2 separate regions of the Homo sapiens genome follow, and region 2 is linked to region 1. A link means that fine-mapping ties the variant in region 1 to the expression of a gene that starts in the linked region. Tissue or cell type: transverse colon. Region 1 holds a variant in brackets; the other region holds the start of a gene. All regions are shown on one strand. Distances are between the middles of the regions.

What was found. PIP is the estimated chance that this variant, and not a neighbour inherited with it, causes the effect.
Region 2: it holds the start of BTBD2, and the variant in region 1 is fine-mapped to the expression of BTBD2 in transverse colon (GTEx, PIP 0.99). The same link has a PIP of 0.9 or more in tibial nerve.

The regions. Positions count from the first base shown.
Region 1 is chr19:1,942,960-1,953,420 of GRCh38, reverse strand. All of the region lies in intron 1 of CSNK1G2 (casein kinase 1 gamma 2), which reads right to left. It overlaps CSNK1G2-AS1 (CSNK1G2 antisense RNA 1), which reads left to right. Exons shown (of 3, transcript NR_033400.1): 2 at 1-35; 3 at 410-894. Among named protein-coding and RNA genes, the nearest start is that of CSNK1G2-AS1, 6.4 kb to the left of the region's middle. RefSeq lists enhancers at 5,702-6,422, 10,262-10,371. The variant G/A (reference allele first, on the strand shown) is at 4,944.
Region 2 is chr19:2,010,129-2,019,218 of GRCh38, reverse strand. BTBD2 (BTB domain containing 2) reads left to right here and starts at 3,505. Exons shown (of 9, transcript NM_017797.4): 1 at 3,505-3,922. The coding sequence starts at 3,516. LOC107985278 (a long non-coding RNA gene) reads left to right here. Exons shown (of 4, transcript XR_001753845.2): 3 at 1,919-2,036; 4 at 2,125-2,874. RefSeq lists silencers at 3,699-3,848, 3,859-3,908, 6,724-6,915.

The sequences.
Region 1 (10,461 bases):
CCATCACAAAGACGGCCTTCCAGACTCCGGGGGAAGTGAGAACACCCCCACCCAGGCCCCCATGGCGCACAGGCCCCCACAGCAACCCTGCGCCACCTCAGCAGCCTCAGCTCTGCTTCCTGCTCCGTGGCCCGGGGGCAGAGCTGACCTGGTCTTGCCAGGGGGGCAGGGGTCCCCGGTCCCAAGTGGTGCCACAGACAGCGGGGGGAACGTGCAGGCAGAGTCAGGCACCCCACCAGGAAAGAAAGCTCCCACGGCAGGTCCCGGGGGCGAGTGGGACCCGGGGTGGCTCCCATCGGAATCCTGCTACATCTGAGAGGACACGGGTCCTTCCAGAAGCGTAACCATGAACGGCCGTGGAAAACCTGGGTGGGCTGCGTTTCTACATTTCCTTTGTTTTTTTTTTCAGACGGAGTCTCGCTCTGCCACCCAGACTGGAGTGCCTTTTCCCCTCATCGTGTGGGAGCCGCCGGGCGACATCCCGCCCCGGTTTCCCTCCACTCGAAGGCAGTCACCTCGGTTGCCAGCTCCTGCCTCTGTGATGATCCCCACGAGGGCTGCAGAGTGAAGGGCACAGCAGGGTTCGGCCTAACTCCCCGGGGAGCCCTAGGCGAGAGGGCTTGGTCCTGGGGAGCTGCCCAGGTCTTCTATATCCCCTGGCCTCCATCCAGTCCCGCACGACTCAGCTCCTGGCCCTGTGCACCGGGCGACGCCTGCTAGGCGCATGACCCTCAGAGTCAGGCCTGTACTCACCTCAGCATCTATCAAGGGCCTTCAAGGATCGGGTTTTTTTAATCATCGTCAAATATATCGTTACTAAAAAGATACGTACACTTTGGGAGGCCGAGGTGGGAAGATCACTTGAGGTCAGGAGTTTGAGACCATCCTGGACAACATGGTGTAACCCCGGTCTCTTCTAAAAATACAAAAATTATCCGGGCATGGTGGCGGACGCCTGTAATCCCAGCTACTCGGGAGGCTGAGGCAGGAGAATCACTTGAACCCGGGAAGTGGAGGCTGCAGTAAGCCAAGATGGCACCACTGCACTCCAGCCTGAGCGACAGAGCAAGACTCTGTCTCAAGAAAAAAAAAAAAAGTTGAGCACGTGGAAGCATCCCGCCCTCCGCCACTCGGGCATCATCAGTGCTCACAGGCCGCAGATGACACACGCTATCGGCGCACTAGCTTCTGCCCCCTGGGCCCTCGTCCAGCCCTGCACCCACTGCCCACTGAGGGGCCAAGGTGTGCTTGCTGTCCTGCAGTGACCATCACGACCCCTTTCACACAGAAGGGTTGGGCTATCCCCGAAAAAGACATGCCAAGTCCTAGCCCCCAGTAAACAGGAACACGGCCTTATGTGGAAATGAGGATGGCCCCAATCTCACCACTTCTCAGCTTAAGGTCCTGTTTCATGATGTTGAGTCAGAAAACAGCAGAGAATGGCCGGGCCCGGTGGCTCTCGCCTGTAATCCCAGCACTTTGGAAGGCCGAGGCGGGTGGATCACGAGGTCAGGAGATCGAGACCATCTTCGCTAACACGGTGAAACCCCGTCTCTACTAAAAATACAAAAAATTAGCCAGCTGTGGTGGCGGGCGCCTGTGGTCCCAGCTGCTCGGGAGGCTGAGGCAAGAGAATGGTGTGAACCCGGGAGGCGGAGCGTGCAGTGAACGGAGATCACACCACTGCACTCCAGCCTGGGCGACACAGTGAGACTCTGTCTCCAAAAAAAAACAGCAGAGAAGAGGAAGGTGGGGAGGGGTGGACTCTCACCGCTTCCTCCCGCCCAGCCTGCACATCCTGAGGGCACCCAAGCATCCCCCATCCTGGCCCATCGGGAGGCTGCACCCCCCAACTGGGACCCCTGTCCGTCATGCACACCACAGCTGGTGCTGCCTCCTCAGGGAGCCCCAGAGGACACAGGCAGCTGGGCCAGCCTCAGGATCTGGCAGGGTCTGAATGGGAAGAAATCAAACGGTCCCAGCAGGCCCCCATCTTTGATTTTTTTTATTTTTTTTTTGAGACGGAGTCTCACTCTGTCGCCCAGGCTGGAGTGCAGTGGTGCGATCTCGGCTCACTGCAAGCTCCGCCTCCCGGGTTCACGCCATTCTCCTGCCTCAGCCTCCCGAGTAGCTGGGACTACAGGCGCCCGCCACCACGCCCGGCTAATTTTTTGTATTTTTTTTAGTAGAGACAGGGTATTTTAGTAGAGCCAGGATGGTCTCAATCTCCTGACCTCGTGATCTGCCCGTCTCGGCCTCCCAAAGTGCTGGGATTACAGGCGTGAGCCACCGTGCCTGGCCATCTTTGATTTTTATAAACCAGCAAACGGTAGAAAGTGTTGCCTCCCCAGGCACACGGCGTCTCCTCTCACCTCCCCTCATTTCAACAGCAGGGGACAGACACAGACCACCCGCCTGGCCAGCTCTCTGACCCCCATGGTCTCCCCTGAAAACTGGGCACGGGGATCACCCAGGGATCTAGGGGGGCACCAAGGCGAATAAACGCCCAGCTCACCGAAAACTTCCCAACACGCTCCGCCATGATACCCCATAACCCCCACCTGGAGGGTCTCCAGCAAAACTCCCGCAGCCCCTCCCTCCTGGATGCCCCAGAGCAGGTGACACCTCCCTTCCAGCGGCCAGGTCCCCACCTGACACTGGCTGGAGGGAGGCAGGGGGACGGGTGCTGGTGGCCTCTGGGGCACGAGAAGGTGCCTTGGTGTTCGGTGGGCGGCAGCAGATTTAGGCCGGGCCAGCCCAGGAAGGCCCGTCCGTCCCAACATGGAAGGAGGCCTTGGCTGTTTCTAAGTGCACCCCCTCCTGTCTCCCAGAGGCCTCAGACAATTTTCTCTGGAAAGCGGACGGTGCTCATCTCCTGGAATCTGAGGTTTGTGAAAGAACATCTTCTTCAGATGTTGCTGTAATGTTCAAGTTCTCCAACACTGCTGAGTTCTCTTTTGCTACTTAAAAATAAACATTGATGGCCAGGCGCGGTGGCTCACGCCTGTAATCCCAGCACTTTGGGAGGCCGAGGAGGGCGGATCACGAGGTCTGGAGATCAAGACCATCCTGGCAAACACAGTGAAACCCCGTCTCTACTAAAAATACAAACAATTAGCTGGGTGTGGTGGCGGGTGCCTGTAGTCCCAGCTACTCGGGAGGCTGAGGCAGGAGAATGGTGTGAACCCGGGAGGCAGAGCTTGCAGTGAGCAGAGCTCACGCCACCACACTCCAGCCTGGGGGACAGAGCGAGACTCCGTCTCATAAATAAATATATAAATAAATATATAAATAAATAAAATAAATAAAAATAAACGTTGATTTTTGTGGCCTCGAAAGGCCAGGGCCACCTCGATGATCCTGTGGGGCTGGGGCCTACCGGTCACTCTGTGGACACTGGATGCCTCCGGCCTCTGAACTCGCTGTGGCGAAGGTCACGGGCAGCACATCCATCTGTCTGTCCCACTGGCCGTGCTCGTCACAGGGTGCAGGATCTGGCCCTGTGCCTGACAAGGCAGTGGGGACACCGGGCACATGCAGGACCCCTGGCTTTCTAGACGGCATGGGGATCAGGACAGCAGGGTCCCTGATGCCCTGCAGGCCAGAGAAGCATCGGGCCGAAGGACAGGAGAAACCAAGTCACCGGAAGAGGGGAGTGGTCGTCGCTGTGCAGAGATCCAGTCCCCAAAACCCGGCAGGGGACCCAAACAGTGCAGGTATGGATGGCCGTCTGCGGCTCCTCAAATGGTCCAACCGGGAGTGGCCCTGTGACCAGCGGTTCCACCGCTAGAAGTCCACCTGACAGAAGAATCACGCAGCCACACGGGAACCGGACACGGGTGCTCGCAGCAGCCACACGCGGATGCCATGCAAACATCTATCACAGAAATAAACACGTGGCCACCCACACGCCGGAACACGACTCAGCCACGAACAGGAGCGAGACTCGGACGCGGGCCATGGCGCGGATGCACCGAGGGTGTCACACTCAGTGAGAGACGCCAAACACACCAGGCCTCATCCCGTGTGATTCCACCCCTAGGAGGTCCCTGGAGCCCTCAGAGTCACAGAGCCAGAAAGTAGGATGGGGGTGCCAGGGGCTGGAGAGGGCACGGGAGTGAACGTTTCACGAAGACAGCGTCTCAATTTGGGAAGGTGGGAAGGTTCTGGAAAGGATGGTGTGGAAGGCTGGCTGCTGATGGGGCCAGGGCTCCCTTTGCAGGTGATGAGAACACTCTGGAATTACAGGTGGTGGCTGCACTCACAGAGGAGCCTTGACCACGGCAGGTTTGAACTGACAGGTCCACTCTGACGTGGATTTTTTCAATAAAGGTTGCCCTGAGGGCGCCAGCCTCTCCTGGCTCCTTCCCGCTCTGCCACCCGAGACAGCGAGACCCACCCTCCCTTCCTCAGCCCTCAACGTGAACACGACGAGGACAGAGGCTTCCATGAGCATTACTTCCACTGCGTGAAGAGCAAACAGGGTTTCTCTTCCTTCTGCTTTTCTCCACATGTTCTGGTCTCCAGCTTCCCTCACTGTGAGAACGCAGCACCTAACACAACACACGAGGTATGTGTGCGCGGACCACGTGTCCTCCCGAGGCCTCTGGTCACCAGCAGGCTGTCGGCAGCGGCATCTGGAGGACTCGAAAGCTATACGAGGGTATTTTGCTACATGAGGGGCTGCTGCCCTAAACCCCACCCTGCTCAAGGGTCAGCTGTACAAAAACCACTTGCGTGCACACGTTGCCGAATTTTACCAAACGTGGATTATGTTCCCAGCAAAAAAAAGTGGCTCATGCTCTAAGGACCACACCGAAATAAGGCTGGTAAGAGAACAGTGAGCTGGGTCAGTGTGACGGGATCTTTTTTTTTTTTGCGTTTTTTTTTTTTTTTTTTGAGACGGAGTCTCACTCTGTCGCCCACATGGAGTGCAATGGCGC[G/A]GTCTCAGCTCACTGTAAGCTTCGCCTCCCGGGTTCATGCCATTCTCCTCCCTCAGCCTCCCGAGTAGCTGGGAGTACAGGCGCCTGCCACCGCGCCCGGCTAATTTTTTGTCTTTTTAGTAGAGACGGGGTTTCACTGTGTTAGCCAGGATGGTCTCGATCTCCTGACCTCGTGATCCACCCGCCTCGGCCTCCCAAAGTGCTGGGATTACAGGCGTGAGCCACCACGCCCGGCCGGGATCGTTAATTTTAAGAAACGCTGTGAGCCCGGCTCTGGCCAGCACCCTGGGGATGAGAGGGGGAGGGACAGGGCCCGGGGCAGCGGCCTTCCAGAATGGCTCCCTCCGGTGCAGGATCAAGTCTGAGCCCAGGGCGGGGCCGCCCCCCGAAGCCACACCTCCTGCTCACAGGGCCAGGGTTTAACCAGCTCATCCCGGGTCCCGGCCCACGAAGCTTTCAGAGGAACCGGGGCTGTGCGCCCACAGGAAGGAGAGGCCAGTGCCCGGGCACGAGGACGAGCTGACTCATGGGGGCCCCAGGACGTCACCACACCCATTGCCCAGGGCCGCGGGCGAGGTCCAAGGGGCAGCGGAGGTCCCCGACAACTCATGGGGCAGCCACGGTCCACCCAGGGCTCAGGCAGCGAGCCCCACACAGCGCCCCTCTCCACGGCGTACAGGCCTGACCAGCGTGATGGCACAGCACGCACACACCTGTGCAGACGCCAGCGCAAACGCACACCACCCCTGCGGTCGCAAGCCCTGTCCCAGCCCACCTGCAGGCTCCAGGGCTCTGGCTGGCCTGCACGTGGCCAGGGCCCAGCTGGATCCCCCTCGGCGCACCCACCCTCAGAGGAACTCAAAGGCACACCCAGCAAGTCAGAGGCAGACACGGGCCAGTCCGTGTCCTCACGCTGGTCCCGTGCGCTGCCCTCAGGCTCCCGTCCTGGGAACTGTCCCCAGGCAGAGCCTGGGCATCAGCGCCAGCTGCCCTGCCCCAGGACCACTGGAGCAGAAGCCCGAGGGGCACAACTGCCGCGGACAGGATGAGCCCTCGCACGCCTGCCATCTTTCCTGGGGACAGAGGTCAGATGGGAAGGGGCAGAGGTCACCGCAGATTACATGAGCATCACCTGGGAAACAAGGTCCCTAAGGAGGGCGGGTCCCACCTGCAACAGGGCCTGAAGCACCACGGCCAAGGCGAGAGGACTGGCCATCAGGCCTCACAGGCAGGGACTCTGTCCACGAATCCAGACCAGGACTTGGGGTGCCTCACTCTGGAGGGTGGAAGTTTCCAGATAATTGAGGGATTACCTTTAAGCACAACTTTTTTCAAGCCTCCAAAGGCAATTACGCATCAACGAAACACCGCTGGTGACAATAAAAAAACCTCTAAGATTTTCTCTGCCTTTTAAATAGCGATAGGGCCGGGCACGGTGGCTCACGCCTGTAATCCCAGCTATGAGGGAGGCTGAAGCAGGTGGATCACCTGAGGTCAGGAGTTCAAGACCAGCTTGGCCAACATGGACAACAGAGCGAGACTCTGTCTCTAAATAAATAAATGAATAGGCCGGGCACAGTGGCTCATGCCTGTAATCCCAGCACTTTGAGAGGCCGAGGCGGGCAGATCACAAGGTCAGGAGATGGAGACCATCCTGGCTAACACAGTGAAACCCCGTCTGTACTAAAAATACAAAAATTAGCCAGGCGTGATGGCATGTACCTGTAGTCCCAGCTGCTGGAGAGGCTGAGGCAGGAGAATGGCGTGAACCCGGGAGGCGGAGCTTGCAGTGAGCCAAGATTGCGCCACTGCACTCTAGCCTGGGCAACAGAGCGAGACTCCATCTCAAAGAAAATAATAATAATAATAATAAATAAATAAATAAATAGCCGGGCGCGGTGGCTCACGCCTGTAATCCCAGCACTTTGGGAGGCCGAGGCGGGCAGATCACGAGGTCAGGAGATCGAGACCATCCTGGCTAACACGGTGAAACCCCGTCTCTACTAAAAGTACAAAAAACTAGCCAGGCGTGGTGGCGGTCGCCTGTAGTCCCAGCTACTCGGGAAGCTGAGGCAGGAGAATGGCGTGAACCCAAGAGGCGGAGCTTGCAGTGAGCTGAGATCGGGCCACTGCACTCCAGCCTGGGCAACAGTGCAAGACTCCATCTTAAAAAAAATAAATAAATAAAAAATAAATAAATAAATAAATAAACGAATAAATAGTGATGGGCCAGCCCTGGCCCGTGACCCCCGAGCCTCTTGCAGTCTTTCTTCCCGCTGCCCTCACCTGCGCCCCCTCCTCTGCGCGGCCTGAGACACAGACGTGAGGCAGCTAGCTCCCCCTGCAGGTATGGAATGGGAGTGACCTCCCCGGGATAGGCCACGGGATGCACTTCCCACCTCTCCCGGGAACATACGCGTGGCCTCCGCTCCTAGATGGAATCTGCCGTAACAAGAGTCATACCCCACGGGTCAGGCCGGCCAGACCAGAGTCTCTTGCCCCACTCCACTGGGCTGCCTGCCCCACTTGGCACCCACAGCTTCGGTCCTCACCCCATGGCCTCTCCAGGGAGGGACCCACTGCTCTACCCCAGCGTGCCCCAGAAGTTCAGCAGATGCGCATCAAGGGAGAACCAGCTTTTTTTTTTTTTTTTTTTGAGACGGAGTCTCGCTCTGTTGCCCAGGCTGGAGTGCAGTGGCGCGATCCTGGCTCACTAAAACCTCCACCTCCCGGGTTCAAGTGATTCTCCTGCCTCAGCCTCTCGAGTAGCTGGGATTATGGGCGCACGCCACCACGCCCGGCTAATTTTTGTATTTTTAGTGGAGATGGGGTTTTGCCATGTTGGCCAGACTAGTCTTGAACTCCTGACCTCAGGTGATCCGCCCACCTCGGCCTCCCAAAGTGCTGGGATGACAGGTGGGAGCCCCCGCGCCCGGCCAGAGCTGGCTGTTTTCAACATGATGTCACGCGAAACTGTCTCGGGCCTCACGGTGCAGGGAGGCCGCTGGGCCACCCAGGAGCACGCCTGAGGGTGACAGGAGGGATCCCTGGGCAGGGCTGGCAGGGGGCTGCCCCGATTCCCTGTGCAGGGGACACGTTGGGGGCTCTGAGCAAGGGGGAGATGATCCCCACACCTCAGACGCGTGCCCCGAACAGTCAGCCGCACCGGGGGCCAGGGCCGCCTGAGTGCTGCCGGGGGAGCCTGGGGCCAGCCCGGGGGTCTGAGAAGCGGCTCCCCTGTGGGCCCAGGACACAGCTCACGCTGCACCTGCAGAGGGGCCCTGGCAACCTTGCGGGCGCACAGGCTGGTGCAGGGCCCCAAGCAGCGGTGGTGGCCAGAGACTCTGGGCAGGGCGAGAAGGGGCCGCGGAGCCTGGAGGACTCAGAACCCAGCAGGGCTTCAGGACAGTGCCTGGGGGACAGCATGGGCAATGCTCCTGGGCACAGCTAGCTCACGCTGGCCACCCGGGGCATGTCCTGCTTTGTCCCATGCCCTTGCTGGTGACAAGTTGATGTGGGTGGTGAGCGGGGCAGAAAAAGGGCAGCAAGGGTGGGATGCTAGAGGTTCCTGCCCCACTACAGGAGGACCCGGCAAAGGGAGGAGGCTCACTGGGCCCCGCCCGCCAGACGGGTGCTTGCCAGGAGCCAGGCAGGCCCCACCCCTCACTCAATCCCTGCCCGCTGCAGGGCTGCCCGCAGTGCATTGAATACACCGTTCTGGTGGTCCCAGACCCTCACTTTGAGCCCTCGCTGAGGTAGCACAAAGGGGTACCCCCCCCCACCCAGCCAGGCCAGTCAAGCTCCCGGACAGACCCACCCAGCAGACGGCTGCACCCACGTGCCAGTCACAGGGCGGCACAGCCCTCTGGACAGAGCCAGCAGAGAGGATGGGGAAGGCGGTGAGGCCCGTCCCCTGGCCGCAGGGCCACCACCCCTCGCTGTCACTGCTCCCACTGGCACGGCGGGTGACCAGAGAAGCACAGGTGTGGGAGTCAGCCCTCGGGAAACACCACCTTCTCCTCTACCCAAGCAGGCCAGGTAGGCCTCGACTTCCTCATCTGTAAAATGGGCGCTCCACCCACTTCCCAGGAAGCCCCACAGCACGGGCCCCACGAGAACTCCAGAATGAGGAAGAAGCAGACGCGGAGCCTCCCGACCTAGGGAGCCTCCAGACTGCAGGCCTCACTCAGACGGCCTTGCACAGAGGCCGCCAACCAACAGGTTCTCTCGTGTGGCTGCCGGCGGAGCATTTGCAGATCTGCAGATCCGCGGGATGGGGGAGGCGGACCCGGCACGCCTGACACCAGAGCTCGACCCAACACGCGCACGGCCACCGAGCCCTAGCTGGACACAGGACTTGAGGCTGACCTGAGGACGAAGCCCACAGCTGCCCGCCACCACCGCAACCCTAACCAGGACTCGGGCCAGGCCTCCTTCACATGGGCCCTGTGTCCCCTCTGGGTTCAGAGAAAGTCAGCCAGCCCCACATGCTGGCCTGCCCACTGCCACCCGAGGCCCGCAGCCCCTGCCAGGCTGTGCCCGGCACTCGGCCCCAACAGCACCCACAGCGCTGCCTCCATCCACCACCCGCCCTCCGCCAGGCCTCGGTCAAGGCCTTGACGGACCATGAGCCCCTGGGGGCCTGGGGCAGCTCGGTGGGGGGTGCAGAAAGGAGGCAACATCAAACGCTCAACAGGATCCCCCTCTCCAGATGCCCCAGGGCAAGCAACTCCGGCTGTCCCTAAGCTCAGCTTCCGTCCGTCCCAGTGGCTCTGCGGACGCATCTGCTGGGGCGCTAGAGTCTGCCACTCGGGCGCGCGGTAACCCCCACCAGTTCCAAAAGACACAGTGCCCCCCCTCCCAACCGTGCCTGGCACACCAACAGGACTACCCCAATCCCCAAATTAATGGCTGGCATACTGGCTTCCCCTAAGCTTGGGATGAGCAACAGGAACTTTCAATTAAAAAAACCCTCGCCTACTTCCTTTGTAGCCCAGAGTAATTACTGTATTATTAAAAAGGAGGAGAAGAAAAGAAGAAACCCAAATCGGCAATTCCACAAAATCTGTCTGCACAAAGTGCTGCACCATCGCGGGCCATCCTGCAAACGGCCTGGCTCCCAGACCTGCCCAGAGCCCAGGCAATGAGGCGCTGCTCCCTCATCCTCTTCAGAGGAACTAGACAGGTTCAAATCAGACAGGAAGCCCCTAGACACACAAGGAAGTCCGAAGGCACAGCAGGCACAGTAAATCCAGACACTACAGACCACTTGGGGTTTCGCCTCCCACCGGGGTGAAGGGAACAGAGCCAGCTCCTCCAACATCTCACCCCATTTGCCCGCTGCACGGTCCTGCAGGACACATGGTTGGCCTCTCACCCCCAGACCTGGCCCTCCCATTGGGACCCCGTCCAGACCCGGCTCCCCTGCATGCAGGTCTCCCGTTCCCTCTCGTCTGTGCAGGAGCGGCTCTCAGAGCTCACTGTGGGGGGCTGAGCAAAACACTCTCGGCCCTAGAGA
Region 2 (9,090 bases), 66 kb before region 1:
AGGCTGAGGCAGAAGAATGGTGTTAACCCGGGAGGCAGAGCTTGCAGTGAGCCGAGATCGCGCCACTGCACTCCAGCTTGGGCGACAGAGCAAGACTCTGTCTCAAGAAAAAAAAAAAAAAAAAAAAAATCTCCACATGGCCGAGTGGTTCACACCTGTAATCCCAGCGTTTTGGGAGGCCTAGCGAGAAGATTGCTTGAGCCTAGGAGTTCATGAGCAGCCTGGGCGACAAAGTGAGATCCCGTGTGTGTGTGTGCCTGTGTGTGCGCGCACGCGTGCGTGTGTGTTAGGCAGGGCCTCACTTTGTCGCCCAGGCTGGAGTGCAGTGGCACAATCTCAGCCTCCCCAGCTGTAGCCATCCTCCCACTTCAGCCTCCCAAAAGCTGGGACTACCGGCACACACCAGAACACCTTGTTAATTTTGTATTTTTTTGTGGAGACAGGGTTTCACTATGTTGGCCAGGCTGGTCTCGAACTCCTGAACTCAAGTAATCTGCCTGCCTCGGCCTCCGAAAGTGCTGGGATTACAGGCGTGAGCTACCATGGCTGGCCTACAGCTCTTTAAAAAAAAAAAAGTCCAGGCGCGGTGGCTCACATCTGTAATCCCAGCACTTTAGGAGGCCGAGGTGGGCGGATCACGAGGTCAGGAGATAGAGACCATCCTGGCTAACACGATGAAACCCCGACTCTACTAAAAATACAAAAAAAAAAAAAAAATTAGCCGGGCATGGTGGCAGGCGCCTGTAGTCCCAGCTACTCGGGGGGCTGAGGCAGGAGAATGGCATGAACCTGGAAGGCAGAGCTTACAGTGAGCCGAGATTGCACCACTGCACTCTGGCCTGGGTGGCAGAACGAGACTCCATCTCAAAAAAAAAAAAAAAAAAAAAAAAAAAAAAAATCGTGAACATCTCAGCATTCCGTAAAGTTCACCCTTTCCTCAGACAACCTACCATTTTGTTAATTTCTGTCACCATGGCAGGTATGCCTGTTCTGCACCTTCATCTAGAAGGGACTGCACAGATGTCCTCTTTAGGATTTGGCTGGAAAGATGTCACTTTGCAAATGTATGAGATGAGAGATAAGAAAGTTGACATTTAGAGGCCGGCTGTGATGGCTCCCGCCTGTAATCCCAGCACTTGGGGAGGCCAAGGCAGGCGGATCACCTGAGGTCGGGAGTTCGAGACCAGCCTGACCAACATGGAGAAACCCCGTCTCTACTAAAAATACAAAATTAGCCGGGCGTGGTGGTGCATGTAATCCCAGCTACTCAGGAGGCTGAGGCAGGAGAATCGCTTGAATCCGGGAGGCGGAGGTTGTGGTGAGCTGAGATCGTGCCACTGCACTCCAGCCTGGGCGACAGAGCAAGACTGTCTCAAAAAAAAAAAAAAAAAAAAAAAAAAATATATATATATATATATATATGTATATACATACACACACACACATATAAAATTAGCCAGGCATGGTGGCAGGCGCCTGTAGTTCCAGCTACTCGGGAGGCTGAGGCAGGAGAATGGCGTGAATCTGGGAGGCGGAGCTTACAGTGAGCCAAGATCGCGCCACTGCACTCCAGCCTGGGCGACAGAACGAGACTGTCTCAAAAACAAAACAAACAAACAAAAAAAAATTAGCCTTAGCCAGGCGTGGTGGCGGGTACCTGTAACCCCAGCTACTCAGGAGGCTGAGGCGGGAGAATTGCTTGAACCAGGAGGCTGAGATTGCAGTGAGCCAAGATCGCCATCACTGCACCCCAGCCTGGGCAATAGAGGGAGACTCTAAAAAGAAAAAAGAAAAAAGAAAAAAAAATTGTAACTACCTCAACCACCCACTCTGGAGAACTGAAAATAGCATTATCACTTGGGTTTTTTTAATACCCTATTTTCTTTTTCTTCTTTGTTTTTTTTTTTTTTCGAGACAGGATCTTGCTCTGTTGCCCAGGCTGGAGGGCAGTGGTGGAGTCATAGCTCATCAAAAGCTCAACCTTCCAGGCTCAAGTGATGCTTCCGTCTCAGCCTTCTGAGTAGCTGGGACAACAGGTGCGTACCACCACGCCTAGTTTTTTTTTTGTTTTGTTTTGTTTGTTTGTTTGTTTGTTTGAGACGGAGTTTTGTTCTTGTTGTTCAGGCTGGAGTGCAATGGCGCGGTCTCGGCTCACTGCAACCTCCGCCTCCCAGGTTCAAGTGATTCTCCTGCCTCAGCCTCCCGAGTAGCTGGGATTACAGGCACCCGCCACCAAGCCTGGCTAATTTTCGTATTTTTAGTAGAGATGGGGTTTCACCATGATGGGGTTTCACCAGGATGGTCTCGATCTCCCGACCTGGTGATCCGCCCGCCTCGGCCTCCCAAAGTGCTGGGATTACAGACGTGAGCCACCGCGCCTGGCTAATTTTTGTATTTTTTGTAGAGACAGGGTTTTGCCATGTTGCCCAGGCTGGTCTCCAACTCTTGACCTTAGGTGATGCACCCCCCGCCTTGGCCTCCTGAAGTGCTGGGATTACAGGCGTGAGCCACTGCGCCCGACCTGGTTCCTCAATCTTTGTGGCATTTGTCTACCTTGACATTATGTATGTAGTAAGCGTTTTGGGGGAGTCCCAGCTCCGTCCACACTGACCACCCCCCACACCTGGCCTGGAGAGGGTGCTGGGCGTCTGCTGAGTGTCAGTGCACGTGGCCTGCATCCTGCTCGCTCATCCGCAGCTTCCCGGCCTCAGGCTATGTCTCTGTACAGCGGAGCCTGCGCCACGGAGCAGGCCCGCCACCTGGGTCCGGGGTCTGGGGTCTGGAGTTTGCGCTTGGTCTTTGGGTTGGGGGTTCCGGGTCTGAGGTATGGGATCTGGAATCCGGAGTCTGAAGTCTGGGGTTCAGAGTCTGGGATCTAGGATTCAAGGTCTGAGGCCTGGGATCCCGGACTGAGGTCTGTGCTCCAGGGTTTAGGATTCCCGGTCTGGAGTCTGGGGCCTGGTGCCTGGACCCCAAATTCTGGACCTCGGTCTGGAGTCTGGGCTTCAGGTCAGGATGCTTAGGGAGTGGAGCAAGAGGTCTTCCACCAGCTCCTCCCCTCTACAGGCCCCTCCTACTCTTCCCTCTCCTCCCCGTCCCCTCCCCTGCAACAGCCTCCCCCATTCACCTCCCTTCTCCCCTCCCTCCTCCCCTCCCACCTCCCCTCCTTTCCCCTCCCTCTCCTCCCCTCCCTCCTTCCCCCTCCTTTCCCCTCCCTCTCCTCCCCTCCCTCCTTCCCCCTCCTTTCCCCTCCCTCTCCTCCCCTCCCTCCTTCCCCCTCCTTTCCCCTCCCTCTCCTCCCCTCCCTCCTTCCCCCTCCTTTCCCCTCCCTCTCCTCCCCTCCCTCCTTCCCGCTTCCCCTCCCCTCCCTCCTCCCCTCCTTTCCCCTCCCTCCTCTTTTCCCCTCCCCTCCCTCCTCCCCCTCCTCCCCCTACTCTCCTCCTTTCCCCTCCCTCCTTCCCTCCTCCCCTCCCTCCTTCCCTCCTCCCCTCCCCCGCCCACGCCGCAGCCACAAAATGGCGGCGGGTGGGAGCGGCGGGCGTGCGTCGTGCCCGCCGGGGGTCGGGGTCGGCCCGGGCACGGGGGGCAGTCCCGGGCCCAGCGCCAACGCCGCCGCCACCCCGGCCCCCGGCAACGCGGCCGCCGCCGCCGCCGCCGCCGCCGCCGCCGCCGCCGCCCCTGGGCCGACGCCGCCCGCCCCGCCGGGCCCCGGGACAGACGCGCAGGCCGCGGGCGCGGAGCGGGCGGAGGAGGCGGCGGGCCCGGGGGCGGCGGCGCTGCAGCGCGAGGCCGCGTACAACTGGCAGGCCAGCAAGCCCACCGTGCAGGAGCGCTTCGCCTTCCTCTTCAACAACGAGGTGCTGTGCGACGTGCACTTCCTGGTGGGCAAGGGGCTCAGCTCGCAGCGCATCCCCGCGCACAGGTGGGCGCCCCGACCCCGCCAGCCCTGGCCCCGACCCACCCAGCCTGCTGCCCGGGCCCTGCACCTGAGGCCCTGCACCCCTCTGTCCCCGAGACCCCCGCACCCCTCCATCCCCGAGCCCTGCACCCCTCTGTCCCCGGGACCCCTGCACCCCTGCATCCTCAGGCTCCGAACCCAACTCGGCCTGCACCCCGGGGCCTGCACCTGAGGCCCTGCACCCCTCTGTCCCTGGGACCCCTGCACCCCTCCGGTCCTGAAACCGACCCGGCCTGCACCCCGGGGCCTGCACCCTTCCATCCCTAGACTCCACCCAGTTCCCTGGGCTCTGCACCCCTCTGTCCCTGCCTCTGCACCTCTCTGTCCCCAGACCCCACCAGGCCTGCACTCTGGGCCTCTGCACCCCTCCATCCCCAGGCCCCCCTGGATCCTCCACCTCTGGCTTGCGCCCCCAGCCTGTTCCCCGGGATCCCAGGCCCTGTACCCCTGGGACCCCTGCTCTCCTCCGTCCCTGGACCCACCCAGCCTGCACTCCGGTACCCTCCGTTCCTGGGACCCTCCAACTCGGCCTGCACTTGGAGCCCCTGGGCCCCTCCATCCTCAAACCCCACCCAGCCCGCACCCCAGAACCCTGAATACCCCATCCTCAGGGCCCTCCACCCCCCGCCTGCACCCTAGGACCCTCCATTCTTCCATCCCCAGGACGCTCCATCCCTGGACCTCACCCCTCCCTGCACCCCAGGTCCCCAGACACCTCTGCCCCCAGATCCCTGGGCCCCTCCACCTCCGGCTGGAACCCCTGCCTACACCCCAGGCCCCTCCATCCCTGGACCCCACCTGGCCTGCATCCCTGGGTCCCCTCCATGCCCTGGCCCTGCACCCCCACCCACCACCCCTGGGACTCCTGTGACCCTCCAACCCTGGGACGTGTACCCCTATCTGCTCCTCCATTCCCAGGACCCCAACCCACTGTTTCTAGGACCCATGACCCCACATGCCACACCCCTCCATCCCTATACCCGGGGATCCTCAGGACCCCTCCATCCCCAGGCCCTGCACCCTTGCCTGCCGCCCCTCTCCCCCTGGGACCCCTACTGGTGACCCCTCCGTCCCTGTACCCAGGGACTCTCCAGGACCCCTCCTTCCCCAGGTCCTTCACCCCTGCCCACTGCCCTTCCACTCTCTACTCCCGGGGCCCCCTGGGACCCCACTACACTCAAGTGTGTCACCCCTGCATCCCAGGATGGAGAGACTTCTCCGCTCTCACCTGAGACCCCCCGTCCCCAGTCCTCACCACCTCAGTCCGTAACCCCCAACCTATGACTCCTGAACTCCAGGACCCCTCCCTTCAGGGGTCGTGCTATTTCCTCCACCCCCACCCATGACCACAAGACCCCTCCCTCTTCCCCCACCATCCAGGGACCCTGCCACTCCCACCCGCACCCCTGTGCGCCAAGACCCCTAGGCCTTGCTCCCTGCGTCCTCCCTGCTGCCTCCAGACCCAGTGACCCCCACCGGAGACCCCCAGGCTCAGCACATGATCTGGATCAGAGACCTTCAAACCATGCTGCTCCCCTCCAGGGATACCCCCTGCCCGCCCTGCAGTCCAGATCATAGACTACCATCCACAGCCCCTCCAGCCCCGGACCCCCACCTCAGCCAGAGACCCCTGGGCCCTGCCACCTCCCACTTCAGTGACCACCCACCTCCAGCTCCGCCACTGCCAGGCTCTGGACCCTGGACTCTGCAGAAGGTTGTCTCCCCTGGGCCCTGCTACCCCCTGCACCCCATCCTATGATCCCCTGCCACCAGGCCACCACCCTAGACCCCTGCCCAGACTCCCATCTCCGGGCCCTTCCAACCCAGAGACCCCCAGCTCCGGGGTCCCTCCCTCCCCAGCCCCCAGCCCTCCTTTCTGGGAAAGAAGTGGGTTTGGCCCAGTATCTGTCTTTGCCAGTGTGCGGGGTACCGGCCCCAGGCCCCAGGTTCCCTCCACTCCCCGGTCCCTCTTACCCTGCCCCTCATTGGTCGGGGGCAGGGGCTGGGTTTTCTTGCTGCGGGCACTGGAGGGGGAGGGTCCTGCCCTCCCTTCTGACCTTCGGGTGCTTTTGTTAACGTGTTCTGGCTTCTTCCTGGGTGTTTATGGGCAGCTGGGTCTCCTTTCGTGGGGTCCTGCCCTGGGCGGTACTTAGCAGAGGTTCCTGCCCCTGGAGGGTTCCGGGGCCTCCTACGGCTTGTGCCGTCCGTGTCGCCGTCCCTGTCTCTGTCGTCCTTAGCTGCTGGGCCTCTCCTAGCTTGGAGTGAGGGGCGGTGGGTTTGCTCCCTCCACCTGGGTGGTCTTTGTGCTCTTTGGGGAGGGGGTAGGTTGGATGCAGCTGGAACTCACCCAGCAGCAGGTGCAGCTGGAGAATCCCAGGCTTTCTGTTTGAGGGGGGAGGTGGGGCGCCCCGGGCACCGGCTGACCTTGGGACATGTATGCGATTGCACTTGAGGGACCGCTGGCTCGGTTGCAAAGTGGGGAAGATGGAGGCAGGACAAGGACCCCTTGGAGAAAAGTAGGTGAGGGGTCTGCCCCCGGGGGGCTCAGGAGAGGGCAATGAGGCCCAGCGGGAGATAGCAGCAAGGTAAGGTGGGCGGGCCTGGGACAGCGGACCCTCGACATGCGGGGTTAGGGGCGTGGACCCCCACTCAGCTCAAATCCAAGTACAACTTTTGACTCCCACGAACTTAACTAGGAATGGCTTCTCGCTGACCGGAGGCCTTGTGAGGACACTTGGTCAATGCACACCAGCCTCCTGTTCTCACAATAACAGGCTGGAGAACAGAAAATACATTCAGAAAAGTCTAAGGGGCCGGGTGCGGGGGCGCACGCCTGGAATCCCAGCACTTTGGGAGGCCGAGGCGGGCAGATCACGAGGTCGGGAGATCGAGACCAGCCTGGTCAACACGGTGAAACCCTGTCTCTACAAAAATACAAAAATTAGCCGGGCGTGGTGGCGCACACCTGTAATCCCAGCTACTCAGGAGGCTGAGGCAGGAGAATCTCGTGAACCCAGGAGGTGGAGGTTGCAGGGAACCGAGATTGCGCCATTGCACTCCAGCCCAGGCGACACAGTGACACACCATCTCAAAAAAAATAAAGGACAGGCTGGGCGCGGTGGCTCACGCCTGTAATCCCAGCACTTTGGGAGGCCGAGGCGGGCGAATCATGAGGTCAGGAGTTTGAGACCATCCTGGCCAACGTGGTGAAACACCGTCTCTACTAAAAATACAAAAAATTAGCCGGGTGTGGTGGTGCACAACTGTAGTCCCAGCTACTTGGGAGGCTGAGGCAGGAGAATCACTTGAACCCGGGAGGCGGAGGTTGCAGTGAGCCGAGGTTGCGCTACTGCACTCCAGCCTGGGCGACAGAGCAAGACTCTGTCTCAAAAAAAAAAGGAAAAAAAATAAAAGGAGAAATCCTGTTTGCTGTTCACACAGTGGAGGTGGCCACGATGAAGGCCTGTGTCCTTGTGTTCATATTGAGGGCTGAGGAGCAGGAGCAGGAGGGTGGGTCTGTCTCCGGGGTGGCAGAGGTGGAAGGGGAGGCAGGAGAGGCCGGCACCGTTGGGGCAGCCTTTATTGAAAAAATTCACATATGAGTGGACCTGTGCAGTTGAAGCCTGCCTTGTTGAAAGGTCATCTGTGTTTCCTTAGCATTTCAGGAGGGTTGAAAATGGAGAGGGGGCACTGACCTGGTCCAGAACGACCCCCTGAGCAAGTGATGTTGATGGAGAGTGCAGTGCCCCAGGCTCAGGGATGGAAGGCCCAGAGCCCAGAGGGGCTGGGCAGGTGGGAGCCATGGCAAGGCCGGAGCAGGAGGAGTGAGGGAGGCCCTGTGGCCCAGTGTGACCAGATCCGCATTGAGGGTGGAACGCGCCGTGGATGGGCCCAGGAGCGAGGCTGGGGAGTAGCAGCTGCAGACTCCAGGCAGGAGACAGCAGCGGGCTCGGTGGGGACGGCAGAAATGAGGGGTAGAGGATGCAGGTCCTCTTTGGAGGAAGCGAGTTCCTGTGGCCAGGAGAGGAGGCAGCTTGGCAGGTGAGGGCGTGGGGGGCTGTGGTGGGGGTCCCCAGACTTCTGGCTGGAGCATCACAAGCCAGGACAGGCTCAGGAGGGACAAGTACTGGCTTGGATGTGTTGGCGGGACCTGGGGCTGAGAGGTCCGCAGAGCAGTGTGTCCCAAGTGCTCTGTGCCTCAGTTTCCATGATTGAAACAAGGTCACTCAGACACATCTGTCCTGGGGCTGTGGGAACAAACGGACCCGATGGGTTGCTGACAGCCACAGGCCACACAGCAGAGAGAAAGAAAACAGCAGCTGAGGCCGGGCGCAGTGGCTCACGCCTATCATCCCAGCACTTCGGGAGGCCGAGATGGGCAGACATCTGAGGTCAGGGGTTTGAGACCAGCCTGGCCATCGTGGCAAAACCCCGTCTCTACTAAAAATACACAAATAAGCTGGGCGCGGTGGCACGCACCTGTAATCCCAGCTACTCAGAGTCTGAGGCAGGAGGATGGCTTGAATCCGGAAGGCAGAAATTGCAGTGAGCCAAGATTGCGCCACTGCACTCCAGCCTGGGTGACAGGGCGAGACTCCGTCTCAAAAAAAAAAAAAAGGTGGGGGGATGTCGGGACGAACTGGGGGTGCTGGGATAAAGTCTGGAGTTCACCGATGAGCAGAGAGGGGCCGGGCCTTGCCAGCTGTGAGGAGAGCAAGTGGCCTGGGCTTGGGCCTGGTCCCTGGCGGGGGTGCAGGGTGAGCTGAGACATGGCAGAGAGGAGGCTGGGAGCAGGCCTTGGTGGTGGCCCCAGTGTCTGGACCGTCGCGCAGGGGTCGGCGTTTGTGCTGGGGAGGAGGCCAGGGGTTGCACGCGGCTTCTGGGCTGTTCCCCGGTCCTGGATGGGCACCCGTCCATCTCAGCGCGCTGGAGCCTGGCACACAGTAGGCACGCAGTGATTGTGCATTGAATGATCTGTGGGAATTAAACATCTGATTCTCTCATGGGGCTTGAAGGGAGAACTGAAGATCTCCAGGGTTGCACTTTTGTAGATGTGCACATTGGCTGGTCCCATGAAGTTAGTATCTAAAATACCTTTTTCTTTTTTTTGAGACGGAGTCTCGCTCTGTTGC